Regions from separate parts of the Homo sapiens genome. Here region 2 is linked to region 1. The links come from fine-mapping of genetic effects on gene expression. Tissue or cell type: hippocampus. Region 1 holds a variant in brackets; the other region holds the start of a gene. All regions are shown on one strand. Distances are between the middles of the regions.

Region 1 (8,100 bases):
CTACACATGCTGGAATGCAGTGACGCAATCATAGCTCACTGCAGCCTCGACCTCCTGGGCTCAAGCAATCCTCCCACCTCAGCTTCCCGAGTGACTGGGAGCACAGGTATGTACCATTACCACCACGCCTGGCTAATTTTTAAATTTTCTGTAGAGATGGGGTCTATGTTGCCCAGGTTGGTCTCGAACATCTGGGCTCAAGTGATTTACCCACCTTGGCCTCCCAAAGTGCTGGGATTACAGGTGTGAGCTACCATACCTGGCCTTCGTTTATATTTTCATACAGAAGGGTAAATCATTTAAATAGTGGGGTGCAACTGTCCACAAAAGCAATAGGAGTAATTCATTGAGAAGCTTTCTGCCCCCATGAGGCACCAGTCTTCCTTCCTTCCTTCCCTCCCTTCCTTGCTGTCTTCCTTCCTTCTTTCCTTCCTTCCCTCCTTCCTTCCTCCCTTCCTGTCTTCCTTCCCTCCCTCCCTCCCTTCCTTCCTGTCTTCCTCCCTTCCTTCCCTCCTTCCCTCCCTCCCTTCCTTCCTGTCTTCCTTCCTTCCTTCCTGTCTTCCTTCCCTCCCTCCCTCCCTTCCTTCCTGTCTTCCTCCCTTCCTTCCCTCCTTCCTTCCCTCCCTCCCTTCCTCCCTCCCTCCCTCCCTTCCTCCCTTCCTGTCTTCCTTCCCTCCCTCCCTCCCTTCCTTCCTGTCTTCCTTCCCTCCCTCCCTCCCTCCCTTCCTTCCTTTTTTTTTGGGACGGCATCTTGCTCTGTCCCCAGGCTGGAGTGCAGCGGCACAATCTTGGCTCACTGCAACCTCCGCCTCCCAGGTTCCAGTGATTCTCCCACCTCCGCCTTCTGAGTAGCTGTGATTACAGGCACGCGCCACCATACCCAGCTAATTTTTTGTATTTTTTAGTCGAGACAAGTTTTCACCATGTTGGCCAGGCTGGTCTTGAACTCCTGACCTCAAGTGATCCACCCGCCTTGGCCTCCCCAAGTGCTGGGATTACAGGTGTGAGCCACCGCGCCCAGTGGGTGCACTAGTCTTATTGTCCCACCAAGCCCCTGGCTGTCAGCCCATCCTGCATAGGGCCAGGAGCACACACCCATCTCCCTCTGAGGCTGCAAGAAAGGGTTCGGGCTCCTGCTGGTTGAGGGCCTTCGACTGGGCTCTCCAGGTGCTGGGCTGGGCTGAGGAGCAAACCCACGTGCTGGTACAGGAGCAGGATGATGGAGGCCGCTCGTGACATCTCCATTATGCAAATACTATGCTGGTCTCAGGTTTTTTCGCTGAGTTTAGGTTGTAAAAGTGGAAGTGTTGGGTCAAAAGCGATCAGAGATCTTTTTAAAACTGACCATGTTACTGCCACCCCCAGAACTCTTCACTGGCTCCCCTAGAGCCTTTGGGGTAAACGTCAAGCTCCTTGGTCTGTCCTGTGGGGTTCTTTACCGTTGGCCTCTGCTGCTCTTTCCTGCCATTGCTCTCTGCCCCGACATGTGGGATTTCCGTCTCCTCCTTGCTGAACTGCTGTCAGCTTGCCCACTTGGTAAAGGTCTGTTGGTCTGTAGTGGGGGTAGCTTATGCCTTAGATCCCTTCATTCCACTTAAACTTCCCATCTCTTCGGTCCTACCTGGAGGCGCAGGGTGGGATGCTGAAGAGGACGGTGTCAGGCACCCCGCCCAGCCACAGGCAAGGGCCCCACTGTGGTTGAGGAGCCTCTCGTCAGGCCTTTCGAGGTTTTCCTATTGGATCCATCTCCTGGCCTAGGGCCCCAGGACCCCAACCTGAGTCCTGGGGAGTTAAAATGGTGCCTTTTCACTGAAGACTCTGTGTAGTGGGCCATGAGCCACATGGCCTGGATGCCTGGGGATGGAGGGTGGCGTGATAGGGAGTGAGGCCTGCTTTTCTCTATGGCTGGGTATGAGGCATGGCTTTACCCAGCAGGGCCTGCAGAGGGCCGGGGCAGGTGCAGGAGGGGAGCTGGGCTGTGGCAGATTTTGTCTTGAGCATGAATGAGACAGTGCAGGGTCCTCCTGAAACACCAGGGGACACAGGGGGCTCAGGGACCTGCAAAAGAGGAGGAGGCAGGAGCAGAGGAAAGATGCATGTCACCTTGAGTGTGACTATGGGAAGCCCCGGTGGCCAGCAGAAGCCCCTCTGCCCCACACCATGGTTAGGAGCAGAGCTGTGGAGGTGACAGACCCTGCAGTCCCCGCCTCTCCATGCTGTTGTCCATGAGCAGTTGCTTAGCCTTTCTGAGCCTCTGTTCCCCACTTGCCAAGGGGGATGGTGACAGCACCTAGCTGGCGGGGTTTGTTAGGCTGTAGGTGAAGTGCTGGCCTGAGGCTCGGTGTCACGGGGAAGCGTTTGAGTTTCCAGGTGTGAAGTATGAGCTTCCAGCTGAGGCACATCCCAAATGGGGCTCTTGACTGAGATCCCAGCTGCTCACCTCCTTGACCCATGGGTGGGTGAGTCAGTGGTCGGGAGCTAGAAACTGGGGAGGGCATTGCTCAGAGGGTGCTGTGGGTACATGGGGGCACTTCCAAGGGGTGAGGGGGTTGCCCCTCCTGGAGAACCACTCAGGAGCCCTGCAGGGTTGGGAGATGCAGAGGCTTGAGGTCTGATGCCTGCCTGAGGGATGTGAAGGATGAGGGGCCATGTCAGCGTTTGTTTATCTGTTCCTGAGTTGTTAGGGAAGAGACTGTGACAGTCCCTGGGGCAGCCCTACTCACACCTCTGAGGTTATCTGGGGTTCTGCTCTGGGGGCTGCATGGACTTTGCGGAGGGCTGGATGCGGCTGGGTTCCCAGGCTAAGTTGCTGGCCACGATGGAGATGCCTGCTCTGGTCTAATGCTGGTGACCCCCACATTCCCATGTTGAAGCAGAATCCCCAGTGTGAGGGTATTAAGAGGTGGGGTCTTTTGGGGAGTGGGTAAGTCATGGGGGTGGTGCCCTTGTGAATGGGCTTAGCGCCCTCATAAGAGGGGCTGGAGGCAGCTGCATCCCCCTTCCGTGTGAGGGCACCCAGGCGGCACTACCTGTGAGGGGCCAGACACTGAATCAGCCGGTGCCGTCATCTTGGACTTCCCAGCCCTCAGAACTGTGAGCAACGCATTCCCGTTGTGTATGAATTACCAGCCTCTGGTATTGTTACAGCAGCCAGAACCAAGACACCATTTCCCAAGGAACTGCTTGGGGTGGGCAGCAGTGCCCAGTGATGCAGTGATGGGGGGCAGGGATTTCAGAGAACCGAGGGGTCCCCCATGTGAGAATGAATCAATATGGAACCCCAGCCAGGCCCAGGGCCTCTGAGGCAAGCCCCAGTCAGGGAAGAATCTTCCGGTCTGCAGGCTCCATGCCACCCCAGCTCCCTCCCTGGAGAAGAAGCCCAGGCGGTGAAGGAGAGCCCATGGCCAGGCCCTGCCTCATGCCTGCGGTTCGACTGAGTGGTGTTAGGGATTCGCAGTGGTGTTAGGGGTTCGCATCACCTGGTGCCACGCCGAGCTCACAGGCATTAGTCCTGGGCACCACCTGCGCTGCTGACACCTGCCCCACAGGCACAGGCCCTGCCCTGTGGAGCCCCTGGGGGCCGTCCCATCTGGCTGGCCATGACGCTGGAGCCAGGACTACAGGAGGACAAAGACGCCTCTGCAGGGAAGGGCCATGAGCCAAGGAGCAGACCGTGTGGCTGTGAGCAAGGCCTCCCTGGGCTCCGAGGCTGCACCTGGAGAAGCCACACCATGTCTGGGTGGGTCCTCTGAGGGAGCTCACGCCCTCTGGCTGCACCAGGGCCTGGCACACAGCAGCTGCTCAGAGGGGTGCAGAGCCAGGTTGAAGGCCCCCTGGAGGATCCTGAGGCACAAATGTGCTCAGCCTGAGCCCCCAGCCCTGCCTTCTCCACGGGGCTGGCTGTGGGCTGCCTCC[T/G]TCCCTGCTGCCCCAGAGCCTCCCCTGCTGGGGTGAGCCTCGGGGCACCCAGCTTCACCTGGCCATCCTCCTGATACCCATCCTGCGCTGGGCCACTGGGGGCTGCTGCCAGGAACGGCTTCTGGGAGATGGGCCCTGCACCTGAGGCTGCAGCTCTGACTGGATCGACAAGGTGGGGAACAGCATGTCAGGCAGTGGGAACAGCATACTGGTGTGGCCAGGAGGCAGGGACGATCCCCGCTGACCTCTGGAGGGGGCTTTTCTCATGTTGCCCAAGGGGTGCCAGGGACTGAGGGTGCCAGGTAGGGATGAGGGTGAGACGATGGCTCTAACCAGCTCCTGGAACCCCCCAAACTCCTGGGGTTTGGCCCCCAGGGCTCTGCCCAGGCCCTGCGGGAGCCCTGCCCCCACCTCTCCACACTGCTTGCCGTCCCTGGGGTCTCAGATGGAAGAGGTGGGCTGGGGCGGTGCAGGGCAGATTCTGCTTGGCCCCGATGTGCAGGCCCCATGCCTCTGCCGGGCCCTTCTGGGGCCTTGCTGTGGTCCTGGCTCACCAGGCAGAATCCCTGAGTTGGCTGAGGCACCGGCTGCTGGTGGCCCTGTCTCTGCCCGTTCCCCAGATAGGACCCAAGTCCAGGACAGCCAAGTCTGATACTGAGTGGGACTCCACCGCTGAGGGGCCTGACATGGCCTAGAGCAGGCCAGGGGTGGGTCAGTGCACCCCAGCGCTCCCTCCTCAACCCATCCGCCACCCAGCAGGCCCTGACCAGCAAAGGGGGTACAAATTGCACTCCCTGACTTCCTGGCTAGATGACCTTGTCACGTGTCAGGTGGGGTCTCGGCTGCTCCCCGGCCCACTGCTTGCTGGCTCAGTTTTTGAGGGGCTGGAAACAGACAGGGTGGGGCTGTGGGAGGGGCCTGCTGGTGGGCCAAGGGGGTTTTGTTGGCTTCCTCATGCCCTGCTCTAGACAAGGGGCACCAGGCAAGGCTGTGGGTATCCCTCACCAAAGGTTAACTGAGCATCCCCCACGCACCAGGCTCTGTAAGCACGACACGGGGTCTCTGGATGGGAAACAGTTACCCAGTCCCATGCCTGAACTGTGGCTACAGCAGTCCCCGGGCTGAGTTGAAAACCTGCCATGGGGTGGACGTGGGGTGGACATGGATAGGCGTACGGGTGTGTTTATAGTGACTAGAGTTTACAAGGGGGCTGGGTGGCGGGACTGCCGTGTACACACTGTAACTCCATGTGTCCAGTTTGTCCTGTTGACGCGTTCCACAGCTGTCACCGGAAAGCTATCTCCTGGGGCCAGCAGCATCCAGGAAGGGGGTACCTGGGGCTGCAGAGACAAGCTCGTCGGCAGGGCAGGGTGAGGGACCATGGGTGGAATGGCAGTGGCTGCCAGTGGGCTCGGGGCTGGCGCAGGCATCTCACGTCGCACCGTGATGCCTGCTGTGGCTCCAGAAGTTCCCAAGCCACGTGGTGACAGACTGTGGGTGGTGGCCAAAGTGGCACATGTCACCAAGCAAGGTCTCGAGCTTGCAGTGGTCCCACCCTCTGGGGCAGTGTTGTGTCCTTGCCGAGGATGGACAGACTGACCAGGCCCCACGGTCCTGAAGGCAGGATGTCCCCAAGGCATGTGCCGCCCGCACGTCTGGAGGCCCTGGGTCCTGCCAGGGCCAAAGTCCCATAAAAGGTCTCCTGTGCCCGTATGGCCACTGTGGGGGGGGGGGGGGCGGGCAGCAGGCCACAGGGTCGGCATTTGCAAAATAGTGAGGCACTCCCTGGCCTCTGCCCACTGGGCCACTGAGGCAGGGCTGTGGACGGCTTCTGCGGGCTCCAGCTCTTCCTCGTCCCTCAGCTCAGCGCTTTCATGTCTTCCCCAAAATAGAAGATCTGCAGATTTAAGCATGTCGGGAGCGGTGAGAGCCTGGAGCTCCCCACCCCAGTTAGACTGCTCTCCAGCACAGCCACTTTCTCAGTGCGCTGAGGAGAGCCAGCCTCCTGCCCCAGAGGGGTGTTCTGCAAATCCCTGGGGCTCAGCCCTCGAAGTCCATTGCTATGGATCATTTCCGACCGCCACTTGGACGTGTTAACACGCCGAGCAAGAAGGAGGTGGGGTGTGTGTCCCACTGTCTGGCATACAAATATAGACTGGGAGTCCCTGTCCCTGGGACATGCATCTTGACTGCACACAGAGGCAGCCACCAGCCGTGGGGGAGTCACAGGCTCAGCCTCCTCTCCTCACCCCTATGACTGTGGCTTGATCCCCACTGTGGGCTGCTGAGGCTCCCAGGAGGCTGGTGAGCCGGGTATCTCTGAAGCCCCTCGGCCCTGTCCTGGTCCCAAGCAGTCCCCGGGTCCCACCTCGGCGCGAAGACTCACCTTAGAGCTTTCCATCCCAAGCAGCCCCCAGGCCCCACCTTGGCAGGAAGACTCACCTTAGAGCTTTCCATCTTTCTTTTTCTGTTTGGTTCTCTGGGCTCTCACTTTCGTAAGAAGCCAAATAAAGACCTAGACAGAAAATGAAGTGAAATTTCACAATTATGGTTGATGATAATAACCTGTTCTACACCTGCTATATCTGCGTGGGTCTCTTTCTGGGTTCTCTATTCTGTCCCATTGATCCATGTGTCCATCCCTCCCCTAATACTGTGCTGTCTTAACGACAGTAGTTCTATAACATTTGCGTGAGGGCTTTTGCTTTTGTGTGAAACTCACTTCAAATGATGTATAAATACATGAGTCTTTATTTCTCTGGAATAACTAACTGCCCAAGAATGCAATGGCTGGGCCATATCATAGTGGCATATTTGGAATAAGAAACTCTTTATCTAGCCCTATATTCTGAGGGTTATCTCTTGCTTTTCCCTGCTAAAAGCTGTATAGGTTTACATTTTACATTTTAGTCTGTGATCCATGCTGAGCTAATTATTTGTATAAGGTGTGAGGCTTGGGCTGGGGTTCATGTTTTGGTCTGTGGATGTCCGGATGCTCCGGCACTGTTTGTTGGAGGGCTAGCTTTCCTCCATTGGGTTTTGTTTTGTTTTGTTTTGTTTTTGTCAAAAATCACCTGGTATATTTGCGTGGGTCTCTTTCTGGGTTCTCTATTCTGTCCCATTGATTCATGCGTCCATCCCTCCCCTAATACTGTGCTGTCTTAACGACCATAGCGCTATCATATCAGCCTTAACATCAAGCAGACTCATTCCTCCCACGAATCCTTTTCAAGATTGTTTTAGCAATTCTAGTTCCTTTGACTTCCGATACAAATTTTAGGAGAATCTCGTCTCTATCTTACAAAGAGTCTTGCTGGGATTTGGGTAGGAATTGCATTAAACCTGTACTTAAATTCTGGGAGGAGAATTAATACCTTTGCTATGCAGTCTTTGCGTTCGAGAACATCCTATGTCTCCATTTATCTACATCTTTCTTGATTTCTTTCATCAGCATTAACTTTTTTTTGAGACAGAAGTCTCGCTCTGTCGCCCAGGCTGGAGTGCAGTGGCGCGATCTCGGCTCACTGCAAGCTCTGCCTCCCGGGTTCACACCATTCTCCTGCCTCACCCTCCCGAGTGGCTGGGACTACAGGTACCCACCACCACGCCCGGCTAATGTTTTGTATTTTTAGTAGAGATGGGGTTTCACCGTGTTAGCCAGGATGGTCTCGATCTCCTGACCTTGTGATCCGCCCGCCTCGGCCTCCCAGAGTGCTGAGATTACAGGCGTGAGCCACCGCACCCGGCACATCAGCATTAACTTTTAGCGTACACGTCCTGTGCGTGTTCTGTTCCATTTCCACCTACATATTTCATGTGAGTGACTGTAAATGGTATTATCATTTTAGTTTCAGCGTGCACATGTTTATTGCTCATACGTAGAAACATGGTTGATTTTTGCATGTGTGTCTTGTATCCTGCAACCTTGCTGAACTCCCTTATTAGTTCTAGGGGTTTTTGTAGATTCTTTGGGATTTTTTTTCCTCATCATCTGCAAATAGGGACAGTGTTAATTTTTCTTTCTGATTTGTGTGTTACTTCCTGTTCTTGCCTTATCGCACTAACTAGTTCTTCCATTACTATGATGACTAAGAGTGGGGAAGAGTGAACATCCTTTCATTGTTATTGGTCTTACGAGGAAAGCATTAAATCTTCTGCTGTTAAATATAATGTTTGCAGAAGCGT
Region 2 (8,100 bases), 190 kb before region 1:
GTCTGGCCGGAGGCAGACAGGATGGTGACGCTACCCAAAGGGTCCAGCCCAACGAGGGAAACGTCCGGAATGACCCCTGCGGTCAAAGGCCTTCAGCCAGTGTCTGATCCCGATCAAAAACATCCCCTTCTACTTCTTCCTGGAAGCATCTGCTTCTTCTCCTGGCTCAGAAACACTTGCAGGCAGAGGCAGATACAAGTTTCATGGGGCCAGAGCTTAAACAATTCTGGGAAGCCCTCTTTACGTATACAAAACTAGACTACAAAACAAGTATTGCTTTAGACCGAGAAAGTACAGAGCTACACGTTAAAGTTAAAAAAGAACAATATCAGAAATATCACAAAATCCAGAAAACCAACACAATGTTTTCCTAACTGCCATGTGCGTCTCCTGAAATACGTCTTCCGGACAGTTCTGGTCCTGTACTCATCGCTTCTTCACACACAGGACAATGATTCTGCAACATTATTTTCCATATCAAGAACAGAAAGATAATGTCTCCCCTTTGCCATGACTCACTGATTTTTTATTACCGACAGTTTAAGGAAGTTTCTTTTAGCCTCAAAAAATCATAACTGAAGAAGTCGATCTTTAGAATTGTCAAATTTGGGAAAATATAAAGTTTTTTCATTTCTGAACTGAAACATTTGAGGGCATTTCAAGTTTTTCTTCTCATCACATATACCCCTTTGATAGATGACACACATTAAGCAGTCTGTGGCAACGCTATCTTTGCTTTTATATTTTAGGTAATGCTATCTTTGTCAGTGTCACTATTTCCTGACAAATCAGCAGGAAATATATAGCTTTTATCATTGTTTGATTCACTAATTGAATTATCGAGCAATCTAAAAACCTGTTTATTGTTTTTACTTGAAATTTTTTCTTCCTTTTAACGAAGTGCTGCTTTTGGCATGATCTGAAAATATTTTGTTACCATTTTTCCTGTTGATGTCAGAACAATTTTTATTGCTGTTATTCAACTTTAACACTTTTGTTTCATAGTCCATTAATACTTTTTTGAGATAGTCTCGCTCTGTCGCCCAAGGTGGAGTGCAATGGCGCCATCTCGGCTCACTGCAACCTTGACCTCCTGGGTTCAAGCGATTCTCGTGCCTCAGCCTCCCGAGTAGCTGGGATAACAGGCGCGTGCCACCATGCCTGGATAAATTTTATATTTTTAGTAGAGACGGGGTTTTGCCATGTTGGCCAAGCTAGCTATTCAGATTCTTTAATGAAAAGTCTAGGTTGGCATGTTTTTAATAGATGGCTTGGATAAAACCACATCCCTGTCTGCTCCTCTTCAGGGAGGACAGTACTCAGGAGGCCACGATGCCCATGATGGCACAGGGAAGGCCCTGTCAGAGGGCACAGCAGGACACACCAAACCTAGCAGTGGGGAGAGATTGGGAGAGGGTTCAAAGAAGGGTTCCCTTGGGGGGACCCTGGGAGCTCGGTCCCAGGGGACACGGAGAGTGAGGTGGAAAGGAGAAGAGCCCGCAGGAAGGAGGTGTACAGAGACCGGGCTGCACCTGCACCCGCCCGTTCAATGAGACGACCCACATAAGCCTGCCGAGCACAGCACAAGTGTTTCAAGTACACCAGCGAATATGACACACTGGCGCGCTGATGACACCCTGGCGCGCTGGCGGAAGAAAAGGTGCCGGTCCCTCGCTTTCTTCATCGGGCTTGCAGTAGCTTCGAGGTTAGCCACAGGGGCTGCCGACTGAACAGCTGGATCTAGGAGGCGGGTCCAGAACAGGAGCCCGAGATCCTTGAAGCCCACTGGGAGGGAACCCGAAGCTGAAGGGAACACTGAGTGTTTCTGGGAACAGAACAGTCTCTTCCACATGAAGAAACGTGGCCCAGGAGAAGCCTCCGTCTGCATCTGGCTATTAGCTGCTCACACTGAAAATCAGGATGATTCACAGAAAATGCTCTTGATAAACTGGACGACCTGGCAACACTGGGACCGCAATCCTGTAGGGCAACAGTCGGTGCCCCGAAGAGCACAGGCACTGAGCCCGAGCCAGCCGGGCTCCTGCAGTGCTGGGCGCAGGCCCTGGAGCATGAGGGGCCCCGGACACCACCTGCGGAGGGAGTGGCCTGTGGGCCTCCCCTGGATCCCACAGGCCGCACGACTCCAAGGGTGCCTGTCCAGCTTCATCCTGTGTGATGGTGGCACCCGGGCCCACAAAGGGCCACCTTGGCGAGCTTGCAGGAACACCCTGTGCCGCTACCCACAGCCTTGGGTGCGCAGCTCTGAGAGCAGCCAGGAGCAGGAAAGGTGGGGGAGGAGAAGCTGGGGGAATGGGGGTGCGGCCAGCTCCAGGGACCTCTGATCTTGCTAAAAGGGCGATACTTTGGTGAGATGGGCACGAAGAAGAGGGCAAAAGAAAACGTGCGCTGGCGTCACCTGGCCCCTTAGAGGCACCTGGGGAAACTGAGGTGGAGGATGAGGACAGGGCGGTCTCGCCAACTTTCGGCGGTGAGATCCCGGGAAGCTGCACGGCCCCCGGGGCTCGCGGGCGCCGAATCCGGGCAGAAGCCGCCGCCGGTCTCCACTTGGCCGCCCCAAGCCGACCTGAGGAGAGCCCGCCGAGGGCGCATTCGCCTCCCGCCAGCCCCTCGCCTCCCCGCCCCGGCCCCTCCGCGCCCGGCTCCCGGGTCCTGGCCTCGCGCCCCCGCCCCGCCGCGCGCTGGCGTGCGTGTCCGCCGCGACGCGCCGAGGCCGGGCCGGAACCGGACCCGCCCGCCGCCCGCCGCCAGCCCCGCCGCCAGCCCAGCCGCGGCGCCCACAGGCCCGGCCGCCCGCGCGCCTCTCACCCGTAAGGCCGCCGCCCCTGCCGTGGCCCCGGCGTCGCTGCAGCACGAAGAAGGGGTTGGCCCGCTCCGTCACCCACAGCGCATTGGCCACCAGCACCTCCTCCGGGCTCAGCCACATCGCGGAGCCGCTCGCACCGGGCCGAGGCCCGCGAGACGGAAGCGCCCGCCGCCGTCGGCGTCCCGGAGCGGAGCGTGCGGAGCGGAGCGTGCGGAGCGGGCCGGGGCGGGGCGGGGCCGGGCGGGCGGCGCCCCCTGGCGGGCGTGTGGCGCTCCCGCACGCGGCCCGAGTTCCGCGCCGCCCCCTCAGCCCCGGCCTCGGGCGCGCGCCAGCCTGGCCTCCTGGAGCGGTGCAGCCCACGGCCTCCGGCCTGGGTCCAGAACGGAACGGCCCAGTCCGCAGACAGGGGAGCCGCTGTGCAGAGCAGGGCTTCTGGCGTTTTGAAAGCTGTGCAGTGTGAGAGAAGGATGTCAAGAAGCAGAGTTTGGCGGCTTTTGGCTGGTTGCGCGTGCAACCCGGGGCGTGTTAGCACTGCAAAGGGCGCCTGGAAAGGGTTTGCAGTTCCTCCTAATTCTCAGCTTTCTTTTCTTTTTTTTTTTTCGACAGAGTCTTGCTGTGTCGCCCAGGCTGGAGTGCAGTGGCGCAATCTCAGCTCACTGCAACCTCTGCCTCCCGGGTTCAAGTGATTCTCCTGCCCCAGCCTCTTTAGCTGGGATTACAGGCTCCCGCCAACACGCCCGGCTAATTTTTTTGTATTTTTAGTAGAGACGGGGTTTCACCATGTTGGCCAGGCTGGTCTCGAACTCCTGACCTCGGGTGATCCGCCTACATTGGCCTCCCAAGTCCTGGGATTACAGGAGTGAACCATCGCGCCCGGCCAGTTCTCAGAATTCTGACACTGGGGCCGGGAGACTAGAAGAATCTTCCAGCGCAGGGCAGGTGCCAGGAGGCCCTGATACGGGCTGCATCCTTGGAAATCAGTGCTGCCCCTCCCCTGACAGACGGGTCACAGAGGCTGGCCGGCCCTGGGGATGGGGTCTGGACTGGCCCTGGGCCCAGTGGCGGCTTCTGCGCAAGTGTGAGGCTGGCTGCAGGCGAATGCGGGTCCCTGGTCTCCCAGTGTTGGCCTGCAGGGGCAGCGCCAGTCCACACACAGCCTTCTGCATGAGGGGGCTGTCAACTCCACCTGGGACAACGGGCCTGGGGCCTGTCCGGGGTCGACTGGGATGTGGGGTCACCCTGCTGGCTGGAACCCTCACCAGGGTCTGGCTAGAGGGCAAAGGGAAGGGGGCAGTTAAACCATCCTTGGAGCTGGACCTGACTTCCAGGTGGGTTTCTGTGATTGGCACTCAAGAATCTTGGTGCGATGGATGTAGGTACATGCAGTTGACACCCAGAGTGATCTGCAGTCTTCTTCAATGTTGCTGGATATAGGAATCAGCTTTCAAGATGCAGAGGCGGGCTTTCTTCAACACCTTGGAAGTCTGAACTAATATTGTCATTGTGCTCTCTAGAGGGAAAGAATTTGGAAGAACTGCACTTTTTAACACCCTGAGAGGAGGTAAAGAGTCGTCTTGTTCCTTAATCCCAGTGGTTCTCAAATTGGGTATACATTAGGATCACCTGGAAGGCTGATTCAAACAGGCTGCTGTAGTCCCAGCCACTTGGGAGGCTGAGGTGGTAGGATCACTTGAGGCCAGGAGTTCAAAATCGGCCAGGGCAATATAGCAAGACTCCATCTGAAAACAAAACAAAACAAAAAACAGCCACACAGGTTGCTGCCCCCTCCCTCCCAGGGTGTTTGCACTGCTAACTCGTTCCTAGGTGATGTTGATGCTGCTGACCTGGAGACCACTCCTCGAGAATGGTTTTTTATAAGAAGAAAAAGAACAAACATTTATCGATCACTTAGTATGTGCGTGCTAAGCTTACTTCTTTTTGATTTTCTGAGATATAAGTCACATTCCGTAACGTTCACTCTTTTAAAGTGCAAAACGTAGTGGTTTTTAGTATATTCACTAGGCTGGGCATCCATCATCACTAATTCCAGAACATTTTTATCAAGTCAAAAGAAACCCCTTACCCATTAGCTGCCATTCCCCACTTCCCCCCGGCTTTGCCCTGGCAACCATCAATCTATTTTGTCTCTATACATTTTTCCCATTCTAGCCATTTCTTCATATAAATGGAACCTTACAATATGTGGTCTTTTGTGTCTGTCTTCTTTCACTTCCCATCATGTGTTCGAGGTTCACCCACGTTGTAGCACGTATTGATGCTTCATTCCTCCTTATGGCTGAATAGTACCCCACGGTATGGATGCACCGCATTTTATTCATTTGGATGGACATTTGGATTGTTTACCCCTCGTCTATTATAAATAATGCTGCCATGAACATGTGTACAAGTCTTTGTGTGAATATGTGTTTTTAATTCTCTTGGGCATATATTGAGGAGTGGTATTGTTGGGTCATGTGGTACAGCTATGTTTAACTTTTTAAGCAGTGACCACACTGCGCTCCAAAGCAGCTGTAGCATTCCACATGCCCACCAGCTGGGTGTAAGAGTTCTAGGCAGGGCGCGGCGGCTCACGCCTGTAACCCCAGCACTTTGGGAGGCCGAGGTGGGCAGATCACAAGGTTAGGAGATCAAGACCATCCTGGCTAACACGGTGAAACCCCGTCTCTACTAAAAATACAAAAATTAGCCGGACGTGGTGGCATATGCTTGTCCCAGCTACTCGGGAGGCTGAGGCAGGAGAATTGCTTGAACCCGGGAGGTGGAGGTTGCAGTGAGCCGAGATCACGCCACTGCAACTTCAGCCTGGGCAGCAGAGTGAGACTCCGTCTCAAAAAAAAAAAAAAAAAAAAGAGTTCTAGTTTTTCCATATCTTGTCAACACTTGTTATTGTCTTTCTTTTTTTTTGATGCTCATTTCTAGAGGGTGGGAAATGGTATCTCGCTGTGGTTTGGATTTCCATTTCCCTGATGACTGATGATGGGCTTTTGGGTTATTTGTATATTTTATCTGGAGAAATGTCTATTTGGAGAAATGTCCTTTGCCCATTTAAAAAATTTTTTTATTTTTTTATTTTTGAGACGGAGTCTCACTCTGTCGCCCAGGCTGGAGTGCAGTGGCATGATCCTGGCTCACTGCAGCCTCTGCCTCCCAAGTTCAAGCGATTCTCCTGCCTCAGCCTCCCAAGTAGCTGGGAGTACAGGTGCGTGCCACCATGCCTGGCTAATTTTAGTATTTTTAGTAGAGAGGAGGTTTCACCATGTTAGCCAGGATGGTCTCGAAATCCTGACCTCAAGTGATCTGCCCGCCTCGGCCTCCCAAAGTGCTGGGATTACAGGCGTGAGCCACTGCACCCGGCCTCTGGCTCCAGTGCTTTTCCACACGTGTCAGACACGTGCTGCCTTTGCCCCCAGCATTCACTTCTCCCGTCTGTGCAGTGTCGTTTGTTTTTCTGCAGTGGGAACCGTGCCTTAGAACGCTCAGCTCTTGTCTGTCAGGTGAAGACACATGGACTCCTGGGCTGTGAAGGTGGAGCCCATGCCAGCTGAGGCCATCGGTGCATTCTATCTGTGATCACAGGGGCTGGCTGGTGATGGCCATGTGCCTCCAACCAAGTCAGTTGGGCCAGGGAAATACCGTCCTGACCTGGGCCACCTCCTGGGGACTGGCTCTTGTGTTGATGGAGCTACTGCCACCCTGAGCCTGGGGATGGGGTTCCCAATGAGGAGCAAAGTTGGCATGTGTCTTGGTGTCAGCATTTGAGGGTGAAATCACACCAAGCCTGACATAGGCACCCCTGGGCATTTTGGCTTTTGGGAGCCATGACATTCCCCTTTTGTGTTAGCCAGTTTTGGCTGGGTTTTCTGTCATTTGTAACCAAGAGAGTCCTCAGTGATACACGTCACCACCAACAATACTCCATGTGGTCAAATCAGCTTTTTCAATAGGTTTTTATTGAAATGGTTATATTAGCAAATTCTGCACATACGGGTGTACACTGTTGGCATATAGGTATATACCATACAATTTCACTACTTGATTATACTTACACCAACCATGCAGACCAAGGAGCTGTGCTGCCCAGAACATTTCAAAGGGTTGATGAGATCTGATTGTCAAGAACCAGCTCACACTCTACTTGTAGGTGTTTGTGTTCCAGACAAGAAAACTCCCCCGACAGGGAGGCCCGAAACTGAGCTAATCGTCAGTTTTGCTTCTTGAATATTGACTGTTCTTTCTGGCACAAGCTATCCAATGAATTAAATTAAAATTTTAATTAAAATTCAAGTGCATAGTTTCCTTTTCATCCCTCAAGGTGGAAGATAAATCATTTGCCACATTTAGGTATATCCCAAGCCTCCCCACCCCCACATTACCTGTGCTATAGTTAGAAAAATAGTTTTGTACGCCATCTTCTGAGATGTTGTGCATAGTGAGCAGGAACCTAGAGTACGGTGGGCTCTTTCAATGACCCAAATATGAAAGGGGCAACTTTAATATTTTATGAGTATAAAAGCTACGGAGGGTCCAAAACAACTGTGACATATGTGGCCTAGGGCTTGCACCAGCTCCTCCTCCTGTACAGGAACAGGATGCTTCCATCAGGTGAGAATGTTCTCCATACCTCAAATCTCATTTCCTAGCTTGGAGCCTTTTCCTGTTTTTGTAATCACACGGGACAAGTTTTCTTTTTAGACAGAGTTATTGCCTCTCTGCAGCAGATCTGGTCCCAAGCCCCAGTCAGGAGATCCCCTCCTGCAGCTGGCTCAGCAAGCCAGGCCCAGGCTGTCTGGAGAACGCCTGGAGACAGCACCCTCTCTGCTTCTCTCCAGGATGGCATGTGTCATCTCAGGCTGGGCACTCAGCAGAGGTGCCAGGACCTGGACCTGGGCCACACCTACTGGCCCAGTCCACAGAGCACAGCCAGCAATCCGCAGCCTTTCTGCTGAAGGAGCGCTTACTCGCCTGAAGGAAGAGAAATGGCCAGGACGGTATATTCTACCTAACCACCTCACCCCACCGTTTCTTTACAAACATCTTGGTTCAGTACCTCCCAGTCATTGGAGAAGTCCTTTAATATCACATAGTGTAAATATACTTGCACTTAATTGGAGATAAAGGCTGTTCCAAAAGCAAATTTGAATTCACTCTGTGTTGGGTTGAATTTGTAAACCACAGCTCAGAACCAGTCTGTGACGCTCCGCAGATGTCGGTGGCTATAGAGAGAGGTGGCTAGGGAAGGCGATGATCCGCGGATG

What was found. PIP is the estimated chance that this variant, and not a neighbour inherited with it, causes the effect.
Region 2: TBC1D9B starts here. The variant in region 1 is fine-mapped to the expression of TBC1D9B in hippocampus (GTEx, PIP above 0.99).

Annotation. Positions count from the first base shown.
Region 1 is chr5:180,095,714-180,103,813 of GRCh38, forward strand. RASGEF1C (RasGEF domain family member 1C) reads right to left here. Exons shown (of 14, transcript NM_175062.4): 13 at 6,358-6,430; 14 at 5,082-5,812. The coding sequence ends at 5,788. Among named protein-coding and RNA genes, the nearest start is that of RNF130, 28 kb to the left of the region's middle. The variant T/G (reference allele first, on the strand shown) is at 3,916.
Region 2 is chr5:179,904,878-179,912,977 of GRCh38, forward strand. It overlaps TBC1D9B (TBC1 domain family member 9B), which reads right to left and starts at 3,020. Exons shown (of 21, transcript NM_015043.4): 1 at 2,827-3,020. The coding sequence starts at 2,944. It also overlaps a transcript of RNF130 not described here. RefSeq lists an enhancer at 1,974-2,751 and silencers at 2,632-2,681, 2,732-2,871, 2,882-2,941, 3,012-3,171.